Linked DNA regions of Homo sapiens. The protein of the gene in region 2 purifies or fractionates together with the protein of the main gene of each other region. This does not show direct contact. Each region holds a gene or a part of one and is shown on either strand. Other genes may lie near its edges.

The links.
Region 1: the proteins of ST8SIA1 (region 2) and POTEF purify together in Homo sapiens (affinity purification with mass spectrometry; 3 studies listed by BioGRID and IntAct, with this or other methods). This does not show direct contact.
Region 3: the proteins of ST8SIA1 (region 2) and ZMYM2 purify together in Homo sapiens (affinity purification with mass spectrometry; 2 studies listed by BioGRID and IntAct, with this or other methods). This does not show direct contact.
Region 4: the proteins of ST8SIA1 (region 2) and NMD3 purify together in Homo sapiens (affinity purification with mass spectrometry; 3 studies listed by BioGRID and IntAct, with this or other methods). This does not show direct contact.

Annotation. Positions count from the first base shown.
Region 1 is NC_000002.12:130,126,210-130,133,232, forward strand, and holds the start of POTEF (POTE ankyrin domain family member F), read right to left. Parts: upstream 3,014-7,023; 5' UTR 2,863-3,013; intron 1,656-2,862; 5' UTR 1,500-1,655; intron 1-1,499.
Region 2 is NC_000012.12:22,198,696-22,205,723, forward strand, and holds part of ST8SIA1 (alpha-N-acetylneuraminide alpha-2,8-sialyltransferase), read right to left. Parts: intron 3,344-7,028; coding exon 2,857-3,343; 3' UTR 1-2,856. UniProt on the Homo sapiens protein: Catalyzes the addition of sialic acid in alpha 2,8-linkage to the sialic acid moiety of the ganglioside GM3 to form ganglioside GD3; gangliosides are a subfamily of complex glycosphingolipds that contain one or more residues of sialic acid.
Region 3 is NC_000013.11:20,080,699-20,087,726, reverse strand, and holds part of ZMYM2 (zinc finger MYM-type protein 2), read right to left. Parts: intron 5,712-7,028; coding exon 5,597-5,711; exon of another isoform or gene 5,591-5,596; intron 4,947-5,590; coding exon 4,695-4,946; intron 4,072-4,694; coding exon 3,951-4,071; intron 1,906-3,950; coding exon 1,713-1,905; 3' UTR 1-1,712. UniProt on the Homo sapiens protein: Involved in the negative regulation of transcription.
Region 4 is NC_000003.12:161,231,283-161,238,310, reverse strand, and holds part of NMD3 (60S ribosomal export protein NMD3), read right to left. Parts: intron 4,913-7,028; coding exon 4,832-4,912; intron 3,585-4,831; coding exon 3,456-3,584; intron 3,190-3,455; coding exon 3,099-3,189; intron 199-3,098; coding exon 120-198; intron 1-119. UniProt on the Homo sapiens protein: Acts as an adapter for the XPO1/CRM1-mediated export of the 60S ribosomal subunit.

The DNA.
Region 1 (7,023 bases), on a different chromosome or scaffold from region 2:
GGAGACTTGCTTGAACCCAGGAAGCGGAGGTTGCAGTGAGCCGAGATCGCCCCATTGCACTCCAGCCTGGGCAACAAGAGCAAAACTCCATCTCAAAAAAAAAAAAAAAAAAAAAGAAAGAAAACAAAGGAAATGGTGGCAGAGAAAATGAAGGCAATACAGTTCACTTAATAATCTCATAAATTAGAACTTACCCCGTGACTCCTGCATAGCTCCAAATATGTGAGAGAGATGAAATGGCTGTTTGCCACCAATATTTTTATGTGATGCTTCATTTTTTGATTCTCTGAATAACTACTTACAACGCATTAGCCCATTTATGCCAGAGGCTGCAATTTTTTGAATTTTTGCACGAGTGAAAAATCAAACCTTCTAATGACCTTGAGCAGTAGGATGTAATTAACTCCCTCATGCTTACCATTCCAATAATGGAACACTAGGCATAAGTGGTTTAACACAATCGTGAAAGCATAGCTATTCAAGTAACTAATTATACAACTGATTTTTTTCCTCATCCCTAAAACATAGTAAAGGACCAGTTATTTTAAAAATACAACACAGTGACAATTTTGGCTTGTTGTTTGTTAAGGCCATTGCTTGGCATAAAGAAAACAAAAAGAGGAGGAGAAACAAGAATAGAAACATGAAATAGAAGCAGCAGCAAAAGAAAATGAAGAGGAACAAGAAGATGAGAAGAATACACAGACTAGAATAAGCAAAAAGAACAGGTGCAGGAATTAGAAGGCCTATTATGACACCTTTTATCCCCTCCCCAATTCACAAAATTTGAAAAAGTCCAAGACCATCACAACAAAAAAGAAGGAAAAAATGGCCGGGAGTGGTGGCTCACGCCTATAATCCTAGCACTTTGGGAGGCCAAGGTGGGTGGATCATGAGGTCAGGTGATCTAGACCATCCTGGCTAACACTGTGAAACCCCATCTCTACTAAAAATACAAAAATAAAATTGGCTGGGCGTGGTGGCAGGCGCCTGTAGTCCCAGCTACTAGGGAGGCTGAGGCAGGAGGATGGTGTGAACCCAGGAAGCAGAGCTTGCAGTGAGCCGAGATCACACCACGGCACTCCAGCCTGGGCAAAAGAGCGAGACTCTGTCTCAAAAAAAAAAAAAAAAAAAAAAAAAAAGCCACACACACACACACACAGTCACCCCCTAAATTTTGTTAAGAATGAGACAATGCTGCCACTCATGCCTGGCTCAGAAGGAGGCCACCCTCCAGAGATTGCAAGAGAAGGGGGAGGACTCCTTTCCCTAAGTGCACCTCCACCACTGCCACCGAGGCCCATGGTACAGCACCAGCAGGTTCGTCCCCACCCCAGGTCGGACTGGGCCCTGCAGTGCTCCTACTCCCCCTTCCCAGTCCCCAGACTTTCTGCCACTACCACCACTAGCACCAATGCCAATACAATTGCTGTCGCCATCAATGCAGCAGCCCACCCTACAAGGTTCCTACCACCTTGCCCCCGCGGGCACCCTCCTACCACTCCTGTCGAGCTGCAGTCTCCGTGGCTGCCATCAGTCACACGAGGCGAGCTGCAGAGTCACGCCACATGCAGGCTCCAGCGTACCACAGGTGATTCCTTCTCCTCCTCCTCCAGCCTGGCTTGGAGCAGCTAGACGGGCAAAGCCAGAAAAGCCTAGAATGGGATGCAGGGAGTGGTAACGTTAGAGCCTCACCTTGTCATGCTGGCCACTGGGTGGCAGGGACCAGCTTCAGCTAAGGCACTCAGACCCACCCACCGAAGTCCAGCCTCTCTTTCTGGCAAAAGGTGGCCAGGAACTGGGGCGGGTGTGAGTGCCTATGCTGAAACCACCCCCATCCAGGTGCAACTGGCCAGAAATTGCTGGGCCCACCAGGGCTGCACTCCTTGGGGAGCAGGAGTAGGAGAAACTCAGACCCAGCCAGCCCTCCCCACTCAACTGCTGGTTCCCATTCCTGACACCTCCACCCACAGTGCCCTGTTCCCACAGTCCCCCGCGATGCCCACTAATCCCCACCCGGTAGTCCCAGGTGGTCTCCCCAACACAGAGCATGGGGTGTGGGCGGGAGGTGCAGGCCGGAGAACCGCAGTGGGTGTGGGGGCCCTGCCCTGCTCAAGATTGCACCAGGAGGAACTCTGGAGTCTGGAAAAGAGAAGAGTCACCCGAAGGAGCAAGGAGACCATGGCTGTTGCTGTCCCCACCACCTCTGCAGCCGACCAACACCACTGGCAGTATAGCCCCCATAGCAACCCTAACCTGACCCCTGCCGCCGGCAGTGTAGCCCCCGGACAGCACACCCACCACACCCTGTGCCAGTTGCAGGCAGTGTAACCCCAATACCCCCCCCAACCACCCCCTCCACAGGCAGTGTAGCACCCGATAGTGCCCACAACCTGACCCAGCCACAGGTGTTGCTGCACAAGACAATGCCTCAAAATCGCCGCCCCCACCCCACCACAGGTAGCGCAGCTCCTGATAGCGCACCCTGAGTAAGGGCAGTGCAGCACCCGACAACACTCCTAAACCACCCCCCGCTGCCAGCATTGTAGCTCCAAATAACCACCAAAACCACTCCCTGCCCCGGGCAGTGCAGCAGAAAATAGTGCCCCTAACCCCTCCCCCGCCACCGGCAGTACACGTTAGTGCACACAACCTGCCTCCCCCCCATCACCCCCGCCACCACGGGCAGTGTAGCCCCGGACAGCCAGCCAAAACCGCCCCCCTCCACCGCCAGCAATGCAACCTCGGAGAGTGCCCCCAACCAGCCCCCTGACACAGGCAGTGCAGCCTCGGGTAGTGAGCCCCAATAGGACACCCAACCCCTGCCCCCACAGGCGGGCAGTACATCCCCGGATAACTCACCTACACCAGGACATTTCTACCACTCTGGCCGAGCTGCAGTGTCCCACGTCACCACCAAACACAGCAAGGCGAGCCCCAGGGGCTCAGGCTCCAGCCTCCAGCATGCCGCTCCCTTCTACTCGTCTTCCTGCCTGGCAGGAGAAGCTCCCGCTACTGGTTGCCCTCCTACCACTGTCGACACCACCAACTGCAGTGAGCCAGTGTCCGAGGCTCCAGCCAGAAACAGGTAGCAGCCATGCCGGATACCAAACGCCCACACTTAAGAGCCTGAAATGACCTGACGCCACCTCCGCATGCTTTACCTACTGAGGTTACGCACATGTGGTTCCCAGACTACATGTTCTGATTGGATGAGAGAAAAACCTCTAGGCCTACTCTGATTGGACTTTATTTTCATGCTGTGATTGGTTGTCTTAAGACTGGCTCTCATCCAATCAGAACATGATAATAAAGTCCAATCCAAGTAACCCTGGAGGGTTTTTCTCATCCAATCAGAACATGCAGTCAGGAATCCTCCTGTATATAATCTCGGTATATGACTGCTGCTGAAGGGAAGTCAGGCTCTTCCACGTTCCCGTATTTTCCTGTGGAGCTGCTCAGTGCCCGGCTTAGAGGACCAGGAATGGGTAATCACCAGCCGTACGCTGGAGGCTGGAGCCGCTACACCGTGGCTCGCCTCGCTGCGACTGGTGGTAACCGCGACCGAGACGGCAGTGCGGCGGAAGCGGTAAGAGGAGGAAAAGAGTTTTGGGATAGATGGAGGGGGTAAAGAGGGTGGTTAGTGCCAAAGGGAAAAGAGGATAGTGAGCAGGAGAGCGCGTTGCAAAAAGGCGGTGGGGAAAAGATAGTGGGAAAAAAAGTTTTTGGGTAGATGGAGGGAGAAAAACGGGGTGGGGAGCGGGAGGGAGGGAAGGTTTTGCAGAAAGATGGTGGGTAAAATGTTTATGGGTAGATGGAGGAGGAAAAGAGGGTGGCAAGGGAGGAGGAAAGAGAGGGTGGTGGGGGGGAGAAACAGCGTTGAGCAGTAGGGAGAGAAGGTTTTGTGAAAAGACAGTGGGGAGAAAAGGTTTTGGGTAGATAGAGGGGGAAAAGAGGGTAACAGGTGGGGGAAGGGAAAAGGGTAGCCAGCGGGAGGAAGACAAGGTTTTGCAAAAAGATAGTGGGCAGGAAAGAAAGACGGTGGAGAAAGAAAAGACAGTGGGTAAAAAGTGTTTGGGTAGATGGTGGGGGGAAAGAGGGTAACGAGGAGGAGGAAAGAGGGTGACGAGAGGGAGCAGGGAAAGAGAGTTGGGAAAAAAATGGGAAAATAGTTTGGGGTAGATGGAAGGCAAAAAAGAGAGTGGCAAGCAGGATAGGGCAAAGAAGAGGACGAGTGGGAAGGGGGGAAGACTGTGAAAAGACAGTAGGGAATATTCTGGGGGGTGGATGGAGGGGGAAAAGGGGAGGTGAGCAGGAGTGGGGAGAAGGCTTTGCGAAAAGACTATGGTGAAATGTTTTTGGGTAGAGAAGGGAAAGAGGGTGGCAAGGAGGAGCGGGGGAAAAGACGATGAGGAAAACAGTTTTCGGGTAGATGAAGGGCGAAAAAGTGGTGAGCAGCAGGAGTGAGGAGAAGGGTTTGGGAAAAGACGGGAGAAAATGTTTTTGCTTAGATGAAGGAGCAAAAGAGGGTGATGAGAGTGGGATGGGGGAAAAGAAGGTGGCCAGGGAGAAAGGGAAAAGACGGTGGGAAAAACAGTGGGGAAAGTGGGTAAGTGGATGGGGAAAAGGGTGGTGAGTGAGAGAGCAGAGAAGGCTTTGCGAAATGACGGTGGGGAAAAATGGTGGGGAAAAAGTTTTGGGGTAGATGGAGGAAGAAAACAGGTGGCGAGGGGGAGGAGGCCAAAGGCGGTCGGGAAAAGAAGGTGGGAAAATAATGGTGGGAGACAAAGATTTGGGGTAGATTTTTTTTTAATCAGATTATTTGTATTTTTGCTTTTGAGTAGTTATTTATATATTTTGTGTATTAGCCCCTTGGCTGATGCATAGTTTGCAAATACTTTCTTCCATTCTCTGGGTTGTTTCTTCGTTCTACTGATTTCTTCCTGTGCTTTGCAGAAGCTTTTAAGTTTTATGTAATTACATCTTTGCTTTTGTTGCTTGTGCTTTTGACAAGTTTAATGTAATTACATCTTTGCTTTTGTTGCTTGTGCTTTTGATGTCTATTTGAAAATTCCTTGTCCTAACCAGTTTCATGAAGGATTTATCCTATGTTTTCTTCTCTAGTAGTTTTATAGTTTCAGGTCCTACATTTAAATCTTTATTTTGAGTAGATTTTTGTATATGGTAAGATAACGGCCTAGATGTATTCCTGTACATGTGGGTGTTGAGTTATCCTAGCAGTTTATTGAAGAGATTGTCCTTCCCGAATGTGTGTTCTTGGTGCCTTTGTTAAAAATGAGTACGCCATAAATGGGTGAATTTATTTCTGATTTCTCTATTCTGTTTCACTTGTCTATGTCTGTCATTCCTTCGTTTCTGTTTCTCCCCCGCCCCTTTTTTTGATAGTATTATGCTGTTTTGGTATTACCATGCTTACTACAGATTTGTAGTATGTTTTGAAGTCAGGTGTGATGCCTCCAGCTTTTCTTTTTATTCCAGATTCTTTTGTCTATCTGAGGTATTTTGCGTTTCCATGTGAATTTTAGGATTTTTTTTTTCTATTTCTATGAAGAATGTCTTTTGTAATTTAACATGGATTGCATTGACTCTCTAGATCACATTGGGTGATATAGACATTTTAACAATATTCTTCTAGTGCATGGACATGGGATATCTTTCCATTTACTTGTGTCTGCTTTAATAGCTTTCATCTGTGTTTTAGAGTTTCCATTGTGGGATCTTTTGTCTTTTTGGTTAAGTTTATCCCTAGATATAATTTTTTTGGTAATGAAATAGCTTTCTTGATTTCTTTCTTAGGTATTTCACTATTGGTGCATGGGCGTGCTACTGATTTTTATATGTTGATATTGTATCTTGCAACTTGACTAAATTATTTCTAGTAGGTGATTTTGTGGAATCTTTAGGGTTCTCTCTTTCTCTGTGTATATATATGATCATGTCACCTGCAAACAAACAGTTTGACTTCCTTTTTTCCAATTTGGATGCCTTTTATTGCATTCTCTTGTCTAATTGCCCCACTTAGGACTTCCAGTACTATGATGAATAAAAGTGGCGTAAAAGTAGCCACACTTGTTCCAGGCCTTAGAGGAAGAGTTTAAACATTTCCCCATTGATTATGATGTTAGCTGTGGGTTTGTCATATATGGCCTTTATTGCGCTGAGATATGTTCCTTCTGTACTCATGTTGTCCAGTTTTTGTCATGAAGGAATGTTGATTTTTATTTTTTTCAGCATCTACTGAAATGATTATATGGTTTTTGTTCTTGATTCGCTGAATGTGATGTCGCACATTTATTTGTGTTTTATTGAATCATCCTCATATTCCTGGGATGAATCCCACTTGATCATGGCAGATCATCTTTTTATTGTGTTGTCAAGTGCAATTTTCAAGTATTTTGCTGAAAATTTTTTTGCATCTGTGTTCATCAGGGATATTTAAAATGCCTGTGGTTTTCTTTTTGTGTTGTTTCCTGGTCTGGTTTTTGTACCATGTACCAGGGTCATGCTGTCCTCATAGAACAAGTTTCGAAGACTTCCTTTCTCTTCATTTTTTGGGGAATATTTTGAGTAAAATTCGTATTAACTCTTTAAAAAACGTTTGGTAGAATTCAGCAATAAAGCCATGATTCTTGTGTTTTTGTTTGATGGAAGACTTTTTATTACTGCTTTAATTACATTACTCATTATGGATCTTGTTCCGGTTTTTTGTTTATCATTCTATCTTGGGAATTTGTTATGTGTCCAGAAATTTATCACTTCTCCTAGATTTTCCAACTTGTTTTTATATAGGTGTTTTTAGTAATCTCTTACAATCCTTCATATTTCTGTGTTATCCATTGTAATGTCTCCTTTTTCATCTATCATTTTGTTTTGTTTTTCTTTTCCTTAGTCTAGTTAAAGCTTGTCAGTTTTGATTTTTTTCTAAAAAATCCAGCTCTTTGTTCCATTGACTTTTTGTATTTTTTGTTTCTATTTTTAAAATTTCTTCTCTAATCTTTATGA
Region 2 (7,028 bases):
TTTAAGTGAAGACAAGGTGGAACAATCAAAATTTCATTTTGGTCTAATCCAGGTCTAATCCAGGTCTGAGATGTCAACCTTGATACTACTGACATCTCAGCCTGGATAATTATTTTGCTGTGAGAGGCTGACTTGTGCATTGTAAGATCTTTAGCAGGATCCCTAACCTCTACTAAGTACATGCTATTAGCACCCTTGAGTCATGAAAATAAAAAATGTCTCTGGTCTCCAGACATTGCCAAATGTCACCAGAGAGGGATAATGAATCACCCCAGCTGAGAAGAGCTGGTCTAATCAAACATCACCAGCACTGGCCATTTCTGTTTTGCCTTTCAGAACCCACATGAAATAGTTTCACAAGTTTGTAAACTAAACATTATATATAAATCTACTGCATAAATCTATCCCAGGCATCATAAAAAGATGAAAAATTTCCACATAATATTTTCTTTCTTTTTCTTTTCTTTTTTTTTTTTTTGAGACAGGGTCTTGCCCTGTCACCCAGGCTGGAGTGCAGTGGCACCATCTTGGCTCACTGCAACCTCCACTTCCTGGGTTTAAGAGATTCTAGTCCAGATGATATTTTCAATGGAACTGTGATGTATGGGCTCTATGGAGCTCATTAATTACATTTTAACAATTAAAGTACTAATCTGAGTAACATTTTATTAACTTTTATATGCGTTTTTGTTAAGCCTTTTATATTTTTAATGGTAGACTAGTAAAAATGTATTCTTTTTTAGGTAACTGCTAAATAACAGTAGCTCAAAAGAGGAAACATATTTAAAGTTTCACTCAAAGTGAATATTTAACACAATTTCTTCATGGTACATTCTCATTATGTTTTTGCTGCCGTATAGCAAACCAGTTCTCCAATAGCATCATTACTCTCGAATTCTTAACTTTCTAAGTAACATTATAATCTGCACTATCAACAAGTCATATTTTAAATTCTAATTTTTATAATAACCTCACTATTTAATTGCATTTAGAAATGGTCTACTTCAATGATGTAGAATTTTGCCAAGGGCTTTCCTATGTTTATGTCATGTTAAATTAACCCACAGAAAATACCAGCCATTATTGTTTACGTGGTAACATGGTATGCTGAGTTTTTACTGTTAAAATTAAACTAGAACTTTTTGGTACAGTTTACCTACAATTTAGTGACATTTAAAATAAAAAAGAAATTGAACTCTAGTGTCACATTTTAGCTTAAGACATTCCAAAGTATGAAGACAACGAGAGGCTTCCCTTACCCTTCTCTGAAATGTAAACACATTTGGCTGCTTGTAATCTGTCAGTAGAGTTTTCTTACTGTGTATCAAAGCTGTTGTAACAAGCTAAGTAGTCCTACCTGCTACTAAGGAAATAAATAGCTACTAATTCACATTTCTTTACTTGTACAAACTATACCTTGTGTGACCACGCTCAACAGCAAGCCCATTCATGAGATTTTGGGTAAAATCAGGATGAGTAAGACAATTCTGCTCATTCCGGGTAAGCATTTGGGGGTAAGACTTGCATCTTGTGCTGCTATGGGTATTATGTGCGGCAACCAGTGAGCTCGGTTGTCTTATATCAACATGTAATGGATAGTGCATAACACATTTGTGATTCTCCAACACTGGTTACAAATTTTTGCCATACCAGGTCATATGAGTTCAGCTTTCATAGTTGCACAGTAATGAGCTTTGTTTAACTTTGTGTGTGTGTATGTGTGTCTACATGTATGCATACATGTTAAGCCTTTTACATTTTTAATGGTATACTAGTAAAAATGTATTCTTTTTTAGGTAACTACTAAATAACAATAGCTCAAAAGAGGAAACATATTCAAAGTTTCGCTCAATTCATTCTTGCATGTATGCATACATGTCCTTTACCTTGCAGTGAATATGCCACAGTAGATAGAAAAGGGATTTGTCTTCTGGTCTGTCTTCCACAGAGACTAAGCTTTTCATCAACGTGCTTTACTGCATTTCTGAACATTAAATTATGAAGACAATTATGCCAATTTACAAACAAATAATTCACTCATATTGGTAGTCTTTTGCACTAAAATAAAAATGACAATGCAAACAGGCTTACATAATGCAGACCTAAAATTGGGTTTATGTCCTAAATTCTGAGGAAGGAAAGTGGCTCCTGTTATCCAGACTATGAAGCAACACAGTCTAAATTCAATAATGCTTCACATTGTCTCTGTGGACTTGACAAAAGAGGAAGAAGCAATTCTTATGTAAAATTTTAAAAATAGAGGGGAGCTATAGTTAATATAGACGTGGCTCAACAAATCACAATTATCAGCAGTAACATTTTGTATCTTTATTACTCAGGAAGGGATTTTTTAAATCTACCCACCCACTTCCCCAAAGAGGGCAAAAATAAATAATAATTTTTTAAAAAAACCTACGGTTCTAAAGCCAGTCTTAATAAGACAGGTTCTTATTAATATTATTAAGCCAGTTTGTGTTGACAATCAGCAACACTTTTACCCCAACATTTTCTTTGTTCTACCTTGATTGGTTCCTCAGCCCTAACAACTCGAGTCTGTCTTGTTTTTGAACTGCATCTTCTAGATTTGAACCATGTGCTTTACCAACAGCATTTCACCAGCATTTTACTAGTTGCAAATCTGCCATGTGCTATAAAGTATTTCATAGGATGTTTCATTTCTTATTTGTCCTCCAAGCCAACGCTGAAAGTAAAGTTTTGCTTGGATCTTCATTGCTCCTTTCCTGTTTTTCCAAGGGCCCATGCAAACTCATGAAACAACTTGACCATTCCCTCTTGGAGTCACATAGAAAACCTAACAAAAATACCCTGGTTCAGTCCTTTCTTCTTCCATTGTTCCTAGGAAGTGGGCTGGAGTGAGGTATCTTCACATGGGTCCAGCTGCATTCTCAGTGCACCGATTTTATGAAGATACCAGAGTTGGAGAAATTCCTCGGGCATGGCATGGAAGCCAGAAAAGGGTAAGACGTTGTCATAGTAGTGGTGGCTGATGGGCTGCTCATGCATATTCACAGAGAAGGGCCAGAAGCCATAGATGGCCACCTCTTCACAGAGACCCAGAGCTGCGCTCACCAGAAAAAGTCCTGTGGACAGGCGCTTGGCATGGATTCCTCTACTTTTCCAGAACTTTCCAATGCTACGCAGAAAGTTGGGGTTGGCAAACAGCACTGTTTGATTGGCACCAACATCTGACAGTGTATAATAAACCCTCAAAGATGGCTCTGTTCCTGTCTTCATAGAAAAGGCAGGCATGTAGATGTAACTGTGGTTATAAATTTTCATGTTGTCCACAAATGTCTTTCTGGACCACAGAAGGTTCTGAAACCTATTGAAGAAAAAAAAAACTGTTCAATTAAACCTAGAGAAAAAGAAACTCACCAAAACCCACTCTGTTGTCTTCTGGTGGCCCTGATACCTCAAATCATCTCAATGAAACACATGAAAAACACTTTATTTGTATTTAAAATCCTCCTTGAACTTATCAATTATCTCTCATCAAATAGCCTGACTTTTTCCCTGACCCCAACTTCTTAAAACGCAGTTAACATTTGTTAATGGGGCTCCCTCTAAACTAAAATGCATTATACATTTGTTCTCTCCCAGAACGTTTTTGCCTGAAATGGAAAACGGTTTAATTCTCATAAATTCCTGAAGGTTGTTGGCTGGGATTTTGATGAAAGGTACTTAGGTGGTCTAACATAACCACAAGACTGGTTTCTTCATCTGCAAATCAAAGGAATCACTTCTAAGATACCTCTCCCCACTGAAATTCTATGATTCTATAAATATTCAGATTCATCAATGCTACAACTATAATATTACATGGAAAAAGGAAAGCTTGTTACTATTACAAAATGATGCAGGGAGTTGCCCATATTGCTTGCTCCAAAGAACTCTACTTTCCTATGTTCTTTCAGTTTGGATTACATGAAATTCTAGTGCAGTTGTAGAAACAAAGATACAAATAAGTACAATAGAATGTTCTAAATACAATGTTGATACTTGTATAAAGTACTATGGAATACAGATGAAAAAAATAATTCTGCCTGGAAAGAGGGAGTGTGGTCCAAGAAAGCTACAGAGTGGGAATAACATTTAAATACACTTCTTATAGGGAAACAACAGAAAGAACAGCAACTAAACTCGAAGGGATACTTTGGTTACAGGCAAGAGTACGCAATATACTGAGGCAATGACAAGGATTCCCTGTCCCTAGAATGTAGGAGGTGCTAATGGCGGCAGCAGTGGCTGAAGACAAGGCATTCTTCGAAAAACGTCTTATATCTGTTTTGTTTGTTAGAACATCACTCTGTGGTGACAGGAAATCTTCACAGCAGTGACTGCTTACAGCACTTATGGCAACTGTCAGTCTGTGTAAAAAAAAGGTACTCTAATAGAATAGAAGATTACCTTGGAAGGAAGAGGCTGGTAGCCTGGAGACCAGGTAAGAGGCTGCTAATACACTCAAGTTAAAAAAAAGAGAGAGAGAGAAAGAGAGGGAGAGAGAAGGGTAGAGAGAGAGAAAAGCAATGACCTAGATTAGGGCCTTGCAACTTTTAATTCCTTTCACCATGGGAGCTGCCCATCTTGGGTTATATGCAGGTGGAGCAGCAGCATCAAAGAATAAACTGAGCCACAACTAGCAGAGGAAAGTCTGGCCTGACATGTTGGCAGGCTCATCATAATTATGTGAAATTAAAGTTCTGAATACACAAATCCACAGGATTGTATGTAGCAATCAGCATTATTGACTCTGCCTGCCCAGAAAGGTATGTTTCTCAAGGCCAGAAGGAAGGGAAATCTCTCAAGTTGTCTTCATGTCCTTGATCCAGTAGCCTGCTTTCTTGATCCAGTAGCCTGCTTTATCAATTTTTCCCTGGGTCCTGATACAGAAGTAATAACAGGGTCTTTAGGTAGATTCACTTTAACTTAGAAGAAGCCATGGAAGCACATTCAACCATATCTGGAGCTGGGCCAGCCTCTCCAATACAAATTCCTGCTTCCCAACTTCCAAATGGGCTCTGCTTAGCAATTCCTTTCTTCCATCGCCCACCCATATCTTCTAATATGGGTGGCACTAATGCTTTCCCAATCATATAGACACACTGTGTAGATAACCTGCTACTCCATTTGAGCCATTGGTTCTCACACTTTAGTTAGAATAACCCAGAGAGTTCACTAATATCACAGCTTCCTGGGTTCTGATGAGAGTGATCCAGGGGCTGAATTTTTACCTAGTACTCCTGGGTAATCTGACACAGGTGGGACATACTTATTTAGAAGATCAAAGCATCAGTGTAAGCTGTCTGGCTTTCTGCATCCATCTCTCACCACCTTTTTCTTTACATCTTCTAATCACATCCTTGCTGCCATTCTAAGAAGTGCTCCATCTTCCCCTCTGTATCTTGAGACAAGCTGTTTCACATATCCTAAAGAACTCATGTTCCAAAGTGGATCTCTCCTCTTCAAAAAAAAAATCAACCTCTCCATCTCAACTGAATTATTTCCTCTGTCTTCTAAATACGGTTAGAACTTTCCCCTTCAACGCTACTAAGGTATATTTTACAAATAAAAATCGTGTATATTTAAGGTATGTAATGTGGTGTTTTGATATGCACATACATTGTGAAATGATTACAACAAGCAGGTTAGAACTAAAAAACTCTTCTTAATATGCTCATACCGTTCCCAGTGCTACATTCTCATTCTGTCATTTCACCATCAACCTTCTAGAGCAGTTAGGATACCTCTATTGCTTTCCTTGCTTCCTTCCATTCCTCCTTATTCCTGTACAGAATGGCTCCCATTTCACAGGGCCCTGCTGGCTGATGGAACTGATCCCTGTCTCTGTGGACTACATACTAGCAGAGAATTACACACTGCTTCAATAAAGTCAAGATGATTGATTTTGTGTTTCCTGTCTTAAAGCCAACTGATTAGTCTTGAAGGGAGTAGTTTTCCCTTTCTGTGTTTTCACTTTGAAAAGGAACACACAGCTTGAATTTACTATAGTCCTAATTTTATTGACAGTTATTATTTTTACCTCTCCCATTCTGTGACAAATGACATTATTATTTAAGAATTAGATTCAATTCAATAATTGTTATGGTATACTGAATATGTTTAATATTACCCTGATCAAGAGTTTAATGGGGTTGGTATTGAATTTTATTACATTATTACAAAATTAAGCTGGAATTAGAAAAGAGTGGTGCTCCAGTTTGTCTCTCCAGCCTCATACTCAGCTACTCCTCATGTCCTCACCCTATGCTCCAGCCATCCCTGTGTGTGTACCTGTCCACAATTTTTATTGCATATATTCATTTTTGCTGATCTAGTCATTGCCCTGGTGAAGTTGTGCCTATAAATCAAAACTCAACTTAAGCTTTCCTTTATTAGGCTTATTCCTTCCTTCCAACTTAAGCTTTCAAAAGTCTTCTTTGAATTCCTGAATAATAATTGCTCATACTCTCTAAGACTATGTACTCCTTGAAAACAAAGGACAAGTTCTATTCATCCTTTAATTTTTATAACGTAGCTCAGAATATTTGTGTACTATATGAATAAAAAACTACTAAACAGTAATTTTTAAAAATAAAAAAGAAATCAGACCAGCCTATGAATTAAAAATAAAAATGAAGATCAGCCCATGAATTATTAAAATAGAAATGATTAATTTATAATCAATATGAGCATAAAAGGAAAAACAAAAACAGAGTGGAAAGGACAAAAGTATAGCACATTTTATAAAGGAATTGAATACATGATAATGGGGACAAAACCAATAAGATTTTTTAAATTACTTAATAAACAATATTGAGATAGTTAGCTAACAATTTGGAAATCTGAGAGGGAACAGATTCATACTTCACGAGACAATTACCAAATAATTTTAAGATAAGTAAGATAGATATTTAAAATCTAGCTGGCACAGTGACTCAAGTCTACAATCCTAGCACTTTAGGCAGCTGAGGTGGGAGGATCACTTGAGGCCAGGAGTTCGAGACCAG
Region 3 (7,028 bases), on a different chromosome or scaffold from region 2:
AATCAAGGGACTGAAAAGTCATTCAACTTATAAAACAAGTTAGAACATTATAATTTTTTATGCCAAAACATTCAGATAATTATTGCTTAGATATACAATAATGACACCTGTGAAATTTTCCAAATCAGAATTGAGAAAATTTCTTTTGTGTGCTGTAACATTTATCCTATGGGAGAGAGGAGTATCTAAGGATGTGTAGCAATTGCTAGCCACTATGGAAAATAGCTCAATTTTCCCCTGAACAATTTCTAAACACTAATGCTACCATGGTCATTCAGGAATCAGAAGAAAACATGATTACACACATGCTAGAAAAGAGCCAAATGATTTCAAGATAATTTGCAGCTAGCACTTTGTTCAGTCTTTAGAAAGTAGATTTTAAGTTTCCTTATTCTAAAAGAAAAGGTCTGAATGGATAAATTGCTATGCAGAAGCACAAAGTTGTTTTTTTTTTTAATGCAATCTTCTATAAGAAGTAATTTCAAAAGCCAAACAATCTAACATTAAATGGGATTTCCTCTGAGACTGACTTTCTCTATTAGTTTCTTTGTTTGTTCCTCAATCATTTGCAATATCAGAATTACTACACTGGTAATCTTCATTATAAAATGTGATCCTATCTTATTTAACATAGCTTGACTTTCTGTAACTATTTCAGGAGTGGAATTTCTAAAAACAATTTTATCCAATGTAAACAGGCACAAGAATTCTGATAAAATTGCTAAGTTTTAGAGTACTACACAGCTAACATTGCAGCATGATCTGTATCCTTAAGAGGGAAAAAAAGAAATAAAAATCAAACCTCTATAAATGAAGAGGATTTCAGATACTTATGGCTGGCATAGAAGAAAACAGAATTTTATACTTTCACCAGACATTTTTACAAAGGAAATGTCTTGATGATCTTGTTTTCAACTTACAATCATTTATATATATATATATATATATATATATACACACACACATACATACATATATATACATATATATATTTGTTTTTTATTGATTGGGTGATGCAGAAAGCCACAAATGAGAAAAGGACACTAAGGTTTTAATAAGGGGAACAAAAAATTGTTTTCACCAGCATAGATTCACATTACAGTACACCAATATTGACAGCATTCTCTTGTCTATTTTTGGTACAGAAGATGGTATCTCTCTACATAACCTTGTAAGGCTTCAGTAACTAAAATGTAAAACCAAACAAAACAAAACCCCAAAACAAAACAAAAACCCCAGCCTATTAGTTTACAGTTTATTTTAAAAATTCCGAAAGACACTGCAAGTTCTAAACTTTTAGTAGTGCTACCCATACACAACCATCTGGTTAAGAACCCAGTAAAAGAGCCCCCTTCCAAGGAAGCTTTGCAACAGTAGAGTTGTGCAATATGGATGTTTCTTACTACAAGAAAAAAATTATACATGGCACATTCTCATTCATATTCTGTAATGTAAAAAGTTACAAACATACCTAATCAAATAAATAATAATAAAAAAAGAATTTGAATGTATTTGTTAAGTATCCTAAAACCACTACATAGAATAATGGCAACTTTCACTCACAGATTATTTACATGGTAATACCCAGCGTGGGTACACTGCTACAAAACTCAAAACAGAAGGAGTAAACTTGAAATGTTTTCCATAATAAAGATCTAGCAGCATGACTATCTAATGCTGTTTTATCCCGATTGCTTCTGCAACGTTCCTTTTTAGTCTGTGTCTTCATCCAGTTCATAATTGTCTTTATCATAAATATCTTTTACTAGAAGAACCCGTACAAGCATATTTTCCAAGGTGTTTCGGTCCAGTGAAGTAGACGTATACCAGACAGGGCTATCTGTAGAACTAGAGCATTCTGGTTGCAAATAAAAAACATCCATCCTCTGATTAAGATTCTGTGGACTTTGGAGGCGGGAGGAAAAAGAGAAAAAGTCAATTTCACAAAATTTCCACAACTTTTTCTTTTTTCAAGAATAATTCAGACCCCATTAATCACGTTATATGACCAGACCCCCTATGCCCCACTGTCTCCATTATTCTGTCATTAAAATATTCTCAAAGTTATTTTCTGAGATAGAGATTATTTCCCACAATTTTAATTCTACTTCACTAAATCCAAGACACTATCAATAGACACACCACTCATTATTTTAATGCTACCATTAAGCAAGTGAAACACTGCCAATTATGATTTCAAGATGCAACAATTTAAACTGTGCATCCCAGTTTCAGAAATAGTGAAATGTGAAAATGTCTTAGAATTGATGAAATATGTATGGCAGCACATAAAATTAAAAAATTCTTACAGCACTACATAATAGAAACTCAATTTTTAAAATACCAACAAGGTAATAGTGAGATAGGAATTTCCTACTAACAAATAGTTACTACCAACTGAAGACCCTGACACTACTGCAGCCAAATAGGACCACCCTAAACCATGGTGAGAAATACAGGCTGAGCATCCCTAATTCAAAAATCCAAAATCTGAAACTCTTTGCCAAAATGACACCAAAAGTGGAAAGTTCCACACCTGACCTCATGTGAGGAGTTCGCGCCCAAAACACAGGCACATAACACACAGGTTATTCAGCAACCCCAAGGGGAAAATAAAATCACCTTCAGGCTATGCATAAATAAAATTATCTTCAGGCTACATGTATAAGGTGTATATGAAATATAAATGAATTTCATGTTTAGAGTTGGGTCCCAGCCCTAAGACATCTTATAATGTATATGCAAATATTCCAAAATCCGAAAAAATCTGAAATCTAAAACACTTCTGGTCAGAAGCATTTTGGATAAGGCGCATTCAACTTGTACTAATATCATCCTATACATGATACTATTGTTTTTACAAGTCCTTGAGGGCCATCCTGGGGACCTGTGATTTATAAATTTGTTTAAACAGGGAAGTACATTTTGAATTCATGCTGACCTTCTGAAAATTAGAGAGTGCTTACTTAAAACAACAGGCAAGCATAAAATAATCTATGGTCTCTAAACGTTTTATTGGCTTAAACTTTTTAAAATGCCTGTTGGTCTGAGATTGAGGGGAAAAAAAATTCCAGAACATGATTCCATTTTTCATACCTGCTTGACTGTTTTCTCTTAAATGTAAATACTTCACTTACATTTCCACCTATCTATACTACCTTTGAGCATACCTTTACACCGGGCATTGGCAAACTACAGCCAGCCACCTGCTTATGTGAAGTTTTATTATAACACAGCCACATGCCATGAATTTATATATAGTATATGGCTGCTTTCTAGTCACAAGAGAACCGATTAGTTACAATAGTGATTCCATAGGCCCAAAAGCCTAAAATATTTACCATCTGACCGTTTAAGAAAAAGTTTGTGTCCCTTGCTTTGCTGTCATTGGAATTGCTGTAATTTAAAAGACAATGACAGGCGCAATGGCTCATGCCTGTAATTCCAGCACTTTGGGAGGCTGAGGCACGAGGATGGCTTGAGGTCAGGAGTTCAAGACCAGCCTGGGCAACACAGTGAGATCCTGTCTCTACAAAAAATACAAAAATTAGCCAGCTATGGAGGCACATGCCTGCAGTCCCAGCAACTCAGGAGGCAGAGGGTGGGAGGATGGCTTAAGCCCAGGAGTTTGAGGTTGCAATGAGCTATGATCACGTGCCACTGTACTCCAGCCTCGGTGAGAGAGCAAGACCCCATCTCCAAAAGAAAATGACAGCAGTAGAAATTTCATTAGTAGAGAGAGATTTCTTAACACATGCTTAAACTCTAAGTATGATGTATAAACTGGGTATTTCAAAATAAAAGATTATAACTGAATGAACTTGGGTATAACTGAGAGAGAAGAAATCTGAGAAAGAATCCATCTAAAAAAGTCACTTCTTGGTAATGTTAAATTTAAACCAGCCAACTTCTACCAACATTTTTAAAAGTTAAGTATCATTAACACTCACCTTTTAGACAAGTAGCATTCAAACATTTTCACAGGACATCTGGAAGGATTGGCTGTGTTTTCAATTTGTTCAAATACTGGCTCATCATCTTCATGTTTTCTTTTTCCAGTAGTAATTTTATCTTAAAAAATAAAAGTGAAATAAACCTCCTAAACTAATCTTGAAGAAAGATATAAACATCACTCCTAGTGTCTGTTATACCAAAGAATAGGACCAGGTGCCCCTTGGAGTTTTAAGTTATGGCTTCTGGTAATGTACAATTTTTCAAACAAAAGGAACTGAGACATCTTAAGACATAGGTTGTCTTATTTTATAAAACTGACAGTCCTTAGGTTCTTAACAAGTGACCCAGGTGGTCTTTAGTAAGGCAAGGTTTGGATATCCCTACCATAGACAATCCCAAAATAGAAATCTGGGCCATGCGTGGTGGCTCACGCCTGTAATCCCAGCACTTTGGGAGGCTGAGGTGGGCAGATCACCTGAGGTCGGGAGTTCGAGACCAGCCTCACCAACATGGAGAAACCCTGTCTCTACTAAAAATACAAAGTTAGCCAGGCATGGTGGCGCCTGCCTGTAATCCCAGCCACTCAGGAGGCTGAGGGAGGAGAATTGCTTGAACCCAGGAGGTAGAGGTTGCGGTGAGCCGAGACTGCACCACTGCACTCCAGCCTGGGCAACAAGAGTGAAACTCTGTCTCAAAAAAAATTTAAAAATAAAAATAAAAATAGAAATCTGTTACACTACCTTCATTATCTGTTCCACACAAGGAAGACACTTGGTATCGAAGACACGCTTTGTTTTCCATCGTTAAAGGATTTTTTTTCCAATGCCTAAACACAGTGCCAAAGGAAAGTCTTAAGTGTTGTTCCACTGTTTTCAGGCCAAAATACTTAGTGTTAAAGTAGAACAGTGTATTCAGAAGAGCTACTGGAGAGTGTGATCCTAGTTGTTTTATCCTCCAGAGATAGTCTTCTTCAACTCGAGAGAATATTGACCCTTAAATAGAGAGAACTATTTTAAAAGAATTATAATAAATAAAAGTTTTCATTTAACCATCTAGAAGCAGACACAGTTAATTTAAGGACAAATCTATACCAATTCTCCTTTCATATTAGATCAACTAGAATAATTCTAGAATTACCTATGCAGCTCTTTAACAATACAGAGGCTACTATGGAACTATTATCTATGGAATAAGGGACTGGATGTTTGCTTCTGTTCTTCAGTAGGACAAGCAAACAGTGGTCAGAAAACAGTGTAAATCCTTTTAAAATTAAAATTCAGGAATTTAAATTCCTGAAAAAAATTGATGACTCCACATACATACACATTTTCTTCACGGACTGAAAACAGTGGTTTAAGAGAAATTTACATCAGAAGCTCCACTGGAAGGCTTAAGACATGAACATCCAGTCTCGTACTCCAGAGAAAGTAGATTACATTTCTTACAAAGTTCTTCATAAACACTAGTTATTGACCACATTTGTTTCTAATTCAACAAGAGATGAAAGGCAGATGAGCTCGAGTAAGTGTTCAGAAAATGTTATCTAATTTAAGTGACTTAATTATAATATTTTCAAACATACTCTGTAAAAATAACAATCCTAATATCAAGAGAGCAACACCTTTAGTGAAAATAGCATTACCATCTGGAAGTATGCTTGGTTGCCAGCTTCGCAGTATTTTATTCAATTCTTGCTCAAATGTTTGGTATCCAGGATCAATAAATATGTTGTCTTTTCGATTACTTCCACACAAATACTATAAAAAAAAAAAAAGCCCCACAAACTTTCTTGAAAGAAAATCAGCTAATTATAGTAAACATATTACACTCCGTATTTCTTAAGAAAAAAATAAAGCTTTATGTCTTTGAAATGCATACTAAAACATGACTGATTTTATGTATGCACCTAGAAATTATAAAGAATCATAAATTATCAACAAATCTGTTGCTTGAAACACTCAAAGCTGAAATACACACCCCAGAATCAAGAATGTAAAAACTGGATGACAATCTTCAGTCTGTCAGACAGAAAAAAAAAAGAATATTTGACTCCCGTGTTTATTATATAGTGCATGAAGAAAAATGTAAATTTTAAAATAAAAGTGTTTTTTTCTTTTTAGTTTTTTTTCTTATAAAGTAAGAGTTATAATTAAGGTAATGACTAAAGAAAAACACTGAGTGGTAAGAATGAGAGGAAATGTTATCTGTAGCTATTGAAAGCTCTCTTCTAGCACTCTGACTTTGTCAGGCTAACGCTTTTTTCTTATTGTCTCTATATTCCTAATTCTCCACCTGTAAAACAGTGCAAATTTATGAATCTTGTAACTTACTGTCACAAACCTAGAAAAATCTTAACAGTGAGGGTGGTTACAGAATCATTTAAAGTATAAACATTAGTGGGGCTTAAAGAGAAAATAACATAAAATTATATGATAACAGCACAAAGAATGGAAGGCAAGAATTGGGAGTACACTGTTCTAAGGCTCTTAAACTACATGTGAAGTAATATAATATTATTTGAATGCAGACATGTTAATTAAAGATGCAGATTGTAAACCTAAGGTAACAAGTAAAACTTAAGAGGTACAAATAATAAACCAATAGTGGAAATAAAGTGGAATCACAAAACATATTAATTCAAAGGAAGGCAGAAAAAGATGGAAAAACAAAGAACAGATAGAATACAAAACAACCAGAAGGATAACAGATTTTAATTCAATGACAGCAGTGATCATATTACACTAAGCCAAGGTTAGGAAACTAGAGTCCTGGAGCCATATCTGGCCCATGCCTATTTTTATAAAGTGTTCTTGGAATACAGACATACTGGTTCATTTGCATACTGTACAGCAGCTTTCATGTTACAGCATAGTTGAATGTCTGCATGACATACAAGCATGACCTGTAACCATGTACCATTTGGTCCTTTATTTAAAAAGTCTGTTGGTCCCTGGTCTAAACAGCAATTAAAAGACAGATACTGGGGTGGGAGTGGTGGCTCACACCTATAATCTCAGCACTTTGGGAGGCCAAGCCAAGCAGACAGCTTGAGCTCAGGAGTTCAAGACCAGCCT
Region 4 (7,028 bases), on a different chromosome or scaffold from region 2:
TGTAAGTATTTCTACTACGATTTTAAATAAAGAGAAGTTGTCTGAGCCTGAAGAATATATGTGATCCGCATCCATTCCCAAGTCCTTAGATTTAGTCACATTCAAGGTTCAGAACATACCTACAGGGAACTGTACACTGAAGAAATTCGACCATCTTCTGAGCATGTTGTTTTGAGGAATAATAAAAATCCAGACCATCTTAAAAAAAAAAAAAAAGCCCTATGAAAATAATTATGCAAAATAGGATTCTCCTCTACTAACATGACTATATTATAAATTACATCTGTTTTAAACAAAATCAAATTATTAGAAAACTCTATTGTAGTCACAACAGATTAGAGATATCACTTAAGACTTCTTTGGCAAAAAGACAGACAAAATAAATCAGCAAATGAAAATAAAACTCGTAATTCTAATTCTAGAAAAAATAAAACTCAAGGCCAAGGGGGACAGAAAAACAAAGAACAAAGAAAGTTTATGAACAGCCGGGTGCGGTGGCTCATGCCTGTAATCCCAGCACTTTGGGAGGCTGAGCTGGGTGGATCATGAGGTCAGGAGATCAAGACCATTCTGGTGAAACCCCGTCTCTACTAGAAATACAAAAAATTAGCCGGACGTGGTGGCATGTGCCAAATCTCAGCTACTTGGGAGGCTGAGGCAGGAGAATCGCTTGAATCCAGTTGGCGGAGGTTGCAGTGAGCCCAGATCGCAACACTGCACTCCAGCCTGGGTGACAGAGCAAGACTTCATGTCAAAAAAAAAAAAAAAAAAAGAAAGTTATTTTATGTAATAAATGGAATAATCTACCAAGAAGATAACAGGAAACTATCTGAGAGATAGAAAACAAAAAGTACTAGAAAAAGAAAAGAAAAAATTAACAAATATTAACACATACAATCATTGTGAAGGACTAGAATAGGACTCTCTCAAAACCAAAATAATCATATTGACAAAAAATAGTAACAATTCACAGAACTTGAATAACCAACTATCAAGGTCGAGTTAACTGAGATTATAGAACACAGTTCTAAGAAAGAATACATATTTTATCAAACATTCATAAAACATTCATTTAAAAATCATGTATTAAGATTTTAAAAAGAAAAAGAATTTCAATAAATCCTAAACAGTAGAAATTACTAAAGACAACATTATCTCATCATAAAACAGTAGCACTAGAAATCAAGAAAGGAATAGCCAAAAGCAAACCTACCTAGCTGAGAAATATTAAAGATATTCTTGCAAATAACTAAATATAATTACCAAAACAGCCAATACTAAAATTACCCAGAATAGCCAAAACAATTTTGAAGAAAATGAACATTACACATTTAATGTCAAAACTCACTAACTTTAGTAAGTATGCAAGATAGCATGGTACTAATATAAGGATAGATATATAGATCAATGGGAGCAGACTTCAGATTCTAGAAATAAACCATTACATTTACAGTCAATAGATCTTTGACAGAAGACCCAAGGCATTCACTGAGGAAAGGACAGAGTTTTCACTGGGATGAAGAATATCCACATAGAAAAATATGAATTTAGACACTTATCTCACACTCTGCACAAAAATTAACTCAAGAGTTAGACCTAAATATATAAGACCTAAAACTATAAAACACTTGAAAGAAACTATAGGAGAAAATCTTTGTGACCTTGATTAGACAAACAGTTTTTAAGCATAACCCCAAAACCACAATTAAAAGAAAAAACTTGATAAACTGGACTTCAACAAAATTTAAAACTTTTGCAATTCAAAGGACACCATTAAGAATATAGAGTGTGAATTTTCTCCTACACACTAGGAGAAAATATGTGCAAACCATATATGCAGTAAGAGACTTGTATCCAGAATATGCTCAACATCGTTAGTCATTAGCAAAATGGAAATTAAAACCACAATGAGATACCACTTCATACCACCCTCTAGAATGGCTATAAACAAAAATATAAGAACAAGTGTTGAGGAGGATACAGAGAAATATTGGCGGCAGGAATGTAAAATGGTACAGCCACTTTGAAGCAGTTTGGTAGTTTTTTATATATAAACATAAATTTACCATATGACTTGGTAATTCCACACCTAAGTATGTACCCAAAAGAATGAAACAGCTGAGGTGCTTGCTGAGGGCAAATAAAATATGCAATGGGCAGTGGAAAAAGGTAGCTATAAGTACCAGCTACAGACCCATTATAGTACTCAGAAGAAAATTTATGATCTTAAATATATGTATTAGAAATTAAAAATAAACTAAGCTTTCAATTAATTAAAACAAAACAGAACTAAATAGAGTTGAGGGAATTAGTGTTAAAAACAAAATTAATAAAAAGATTGTTTAAAACTAAAAATAGTTTTTTGAAAAAACTAACATAATAGATAAAAGTAGCTAGTCTAAGGTGAGGTGAGTAGAAAGAGAAAAGATAAACATTAGGAACAATAGAGAGGACATAACTACAGTTACGGATGAGATTTATTTTATTTGTTCAATTTTATACCAAGAATCTAAAAAGCTAGATGAAATGGTTTTTCTTGGAAAATGGTATTAAAATTGACTCAAGGGGTAGAATACCTGAGAGGTGAATATCATAAAAGAAACTGAAAAGACGTCCCTTAGGAGATATCAAATTGGATGGCTTAATGGGCAAGTTCTTAAAAAACTTCTAGAGGTTAATTAAATGCTAGGTAGAAAGAAGGCAAGCTTTCTTTCTAACTCTTTTCAATGTCACTCACTTAACTGAGAGCAAGATTGGACAGAAGTATGTATGCATATGTATCAAACAGAAACCTCAAGAAATATCATACTTAGGTATGAAACATAAAAAGATAATTATGTTTGACATTAGCAGAAAATTAAAAATTCAGTTTCTCAGTTGCTCTAGCCACATTTCAAGTACTCAACAGCCAAATGTGGCTAGTGACTATACCATACTGGACAGTGCAGATAAAGAATTAAGTTGTTTTTTTTTTTTTTCCTAACAGAAAGTTCTTTTGGACAGTACTAATCCAGATATTATCAGTAAATATAAGATTACTTAGGTATGTTGAAATAAAAATCTGACATAATTTCAAATGCTTTTGAGTTTTAACTCACCATGAATCTCTTTGATACGAAGTGTATTCTGATGCATTCCATATTTCAGAATTAACTGTTCCAGATAGTAGAAAGTTTTTTTATGCAAAGTCTAAAATATAAATTATTTGATCAATAAATGCCCCACAAAAAAGCCATTTATAGGTATAGGACACACATACTATCTACAGATAGAGCATACTGATTTTTCAAACAATAACAATCTTTAAAGATTATCTAAAATGTAATAATGATCTATTTCCAAAGGTGAATGCTTCAGGGACCCAGACTATCCCTGGATTTAGAAAGAAGGAAAAGTTATAATTAACAAAGACGAAATATAAGATGTAGGACTCACTCATCATCTTCTCTCATTACCTTTTGCCTCACTTGAATCACAGCCTTCCAGAAATCCTTAGCTTCTACTCTATGGCAATCTCCACACATTTGGGACTGAACAACATAATCCACCACAAACACTTGTTGAAGGATAGCACCATTCATCACCTGATAAAACAATTACACTCCTTCATTCTTTTGGTTTTGTTTAATAACAAATATTTTCTTTAAAGAAGAACCTTTAATATTTAATTTAAAACTTTTTCCATTAATGCTTTGAGGACATCAATCAAATGTCCTCAAATTTAAAGTCATAAAAACAAGTTATACTATTTCAAGAACGGTATACAGATTTAATTCCTAAGATTTATTAGATTAGCATTTCAAATTTTCCTTTAGCTGAAGTGGTTGTGAGAATATTCTGTGTATATTTTACATATATATATATATATATAATTTTTTTTGAGACAGGGTCTCACTCTGCCTGTTGCCCAGCCTGGAGTACAGTGGCACGATCTTGGTTCACTGCAACTTCTGCCTCCTGGGCTCAAGTGATTCTCCACCTCAGCCTCCCAAGTAGCACACACCACCACGTCCAGCTAACTTTTGTATTTTTAGTAGAGATGGGGTCTCGAACTCCAGGGCTCAAGTGATCTGCCTACCTTGGCCTCCCAAAGTGCTGGGATCACAGGTGTGAGCCACCATGCCCAGCCTATACATGTTTACATAGAAAAATCATCCTTAGAAGAAAAAAATAAGGAAAACTTCTCAAAAAAAAAATTCCTTAATTTAATGATTCCCAAACATAACTGATCAGAAATCACATGGGAAGCTTTTTAAATACAGATTGAACATTCCAAATCCAAAAACCCAGAATCTGAAATTTCAGCTTCAAAATCTGAAACTTCTTGAGTTTCTAAATGACACTCAAAGAAAATGTTCACTGGAACATTTTGTATTTGAATTAGGGATGTTCAACCAGTTAAGTATAATGCAAAATTCCAAAATCCAAAAAATCCAAAATCTGAAACACTTCTTGTCCCAAGCATTTCAGATAAGGGATACTCAACCTACTTATAGATTCCCGGCCTCACATACAGAGAATTTTTGCTTCAGTTATGATGAGTCATTACAATGATCAGCCAAGTTTGAGGATCAGTACCTTAGACCATGTTTTTACTTCAATCCTTTCCTAATAAAAATAACTCTGGAAAAGTAAGTCTGCTAATCAGAAGCAATGACTACTCTTACTAGTGATCTAATTATTTGTACAGATGCTCAAAAGAAAACAAACAGCTAAAATTGAGTGTACTCTTTTTCTTTTAAGCTGTTCAAGCCATAAAATAACTTATCACTGGGTCTTCATTTTCACTACCTGCACTTTAACCATGCTGAGAAAATTATGTACTGCTTACCTCTTTCTGAATAGTCAGTTTAACTTTAAGTCTCTTAGAATGAGGCTCAGTCCAAACAAAGCCTGCATCTACAAGCCGTACCTTCAATAAAACACAAACAAAAAGAAACGTAAGTTCTCACCTAGGAGGAAAAAAAACACGAAAGAACAAATCATCAATAAGCAGATTTCATAAGATGCTTAAGGAATCTGTGATCAGCATACTACACACCATCATCACAAAAAAAGATTAATCATTGGTTACGTAACAACAGCAGCAAATCAAAGGACAACCCAATGACTATATTAATGCAACTGATATAATTTAAGCAAAAATTAAAGTATTTGCATAGGAAAAAAATTCTTTTCCCTTAAAAAAAAAAAAAAAGTACATTGTCCTTTAAAAGGAAATTATATTTTTTGGAGGAAAGCAAAGACCTTGTGACCTCATTATTTATTAGTAACCTCATGAACAAAAGTTTCCACTTGGATTATTCTCTCTATATTCTGTGACTTTTTTTAAGAAGTGACATTGATTAGAGAAGTTGCATGCACTGAATACTAAATCCACAACTATAACTCACTACTAAATCTGCAGCATCTGCATAGGCCAAAACAGTTTGCTATATGTGAAGATCTGAATATAACTCAAGAATGGCCAGAATGGGTGTTTGGGGAGAAGGGGTGGGTGGGAGAACAAGAATGGAGGCTGCTGTAATAACCTGGGCCAGATTGTAGATGATCTGAACTGAGAGGCACTGGAAATAACAAAAGCAGATGCAAGGGCTAGTTAGGAGATAAAAATCTGTAAGATTTATCTGCACAGTCCAAGTGATGCAGAAAAAAAATCTGTAAGATTTAATGGTAACTGGATATGGAAAAGAGGAAGAGAACAGACTCCAGAATGATGCTCAAGTATTTGCTTAGACAACTAGGCAGTACACTTTTTGTGACTACCTATACCGAAATAAACAATGGATATAATGAGAAAAAGATGTTACATTTGATTTCAGACATTTCAGTTTAAGACAGTATCTGTGAGATACCCAAGAGGACTTTTCAGTGAACAGTAAGATACAATTGGTCTGGAGATCTATAAAAAAATTTGGGCTGCAGTTAACAGATTTGAGAGGTATCAGCAGCAGATTATACTTTTATCAAGCACTGTCTGGTAAAAAGTAGACTGGCCACTTTTAGTGTAGATGCAAAGATTCAACACACCAGAGTAAAACCCTCCTCATATAGCTGGCCTCCCTAAAACAAAGCCTAGTAGTTAACAAGTGATGCCAGGTACACAGGGTGATAGGCAGATTCCTATTCCTTCAATCTCCATCAGCAGTGGTTAAAAAAAAAAAAAAAAAAAAAGCCCCAAAGGCACTGAATAAGACTGATCTTCCCCTCAAGCTCCAACCTCCACCTGCAGGAATGGAGAGTCTCCTTGACATCCTGCTCGGCATTCCCCAACACAACCACTGCACTATGTGTCCTCAGACAACCATGACTAATCAACTTTATTAGTCCCTTTCTTTCTTTACCATAGTCCCAGACACCTCAGTCACCCCTATTTCCCATACTCCAATTTCCATATGGTTATGCATATTCCCTATTCTGTCCCCATCTAACACTCCTCCCCGAATCCTAAAACCCTTCTACTGTGCCCTCCGGAGCTCAACATTCATTAACAATGAAATCTCCTAAATCCTCAACTTTGCTGAACATTCCCTTCACCTTCTAGATCTCCTGATTTCTCTCTCCCCTGCAGCTATATAAAGTGATAACTGATTCTTCCTATCACTGGACCAGGCACCAGACAGCTATCGTCCTTGCTCTTCATTGCTAATTACAGACCATTCTCCTTGTCTCCTCCTCAAATATACCCAGCTCTAAGTCTAAAGTCATTAGACTCTACCACCCGCAACTCTCTTTTTTATAGTAATCTATTCATCTTTGTATCACTTGTTTTCATTTCTCAAAAGATTTTAGCTTCTGGCTCACCATCACACTTTCCAACAATATTAATACCTAGCGATTTCAATATCCACACAGGTGATCCCCACAATACCCTGACCTCTCACTCCATTCTTTGAGTTCTTCTTCTCCCAAAATATTATCCACCTTCCTATCTCAGTCACTCATATGCCTCTATTACCAGTAACTGCAAACCCTCCAAACTATCAATTCCAAACATCCTACTCCCTGACTACCACCTCCCATCTTTC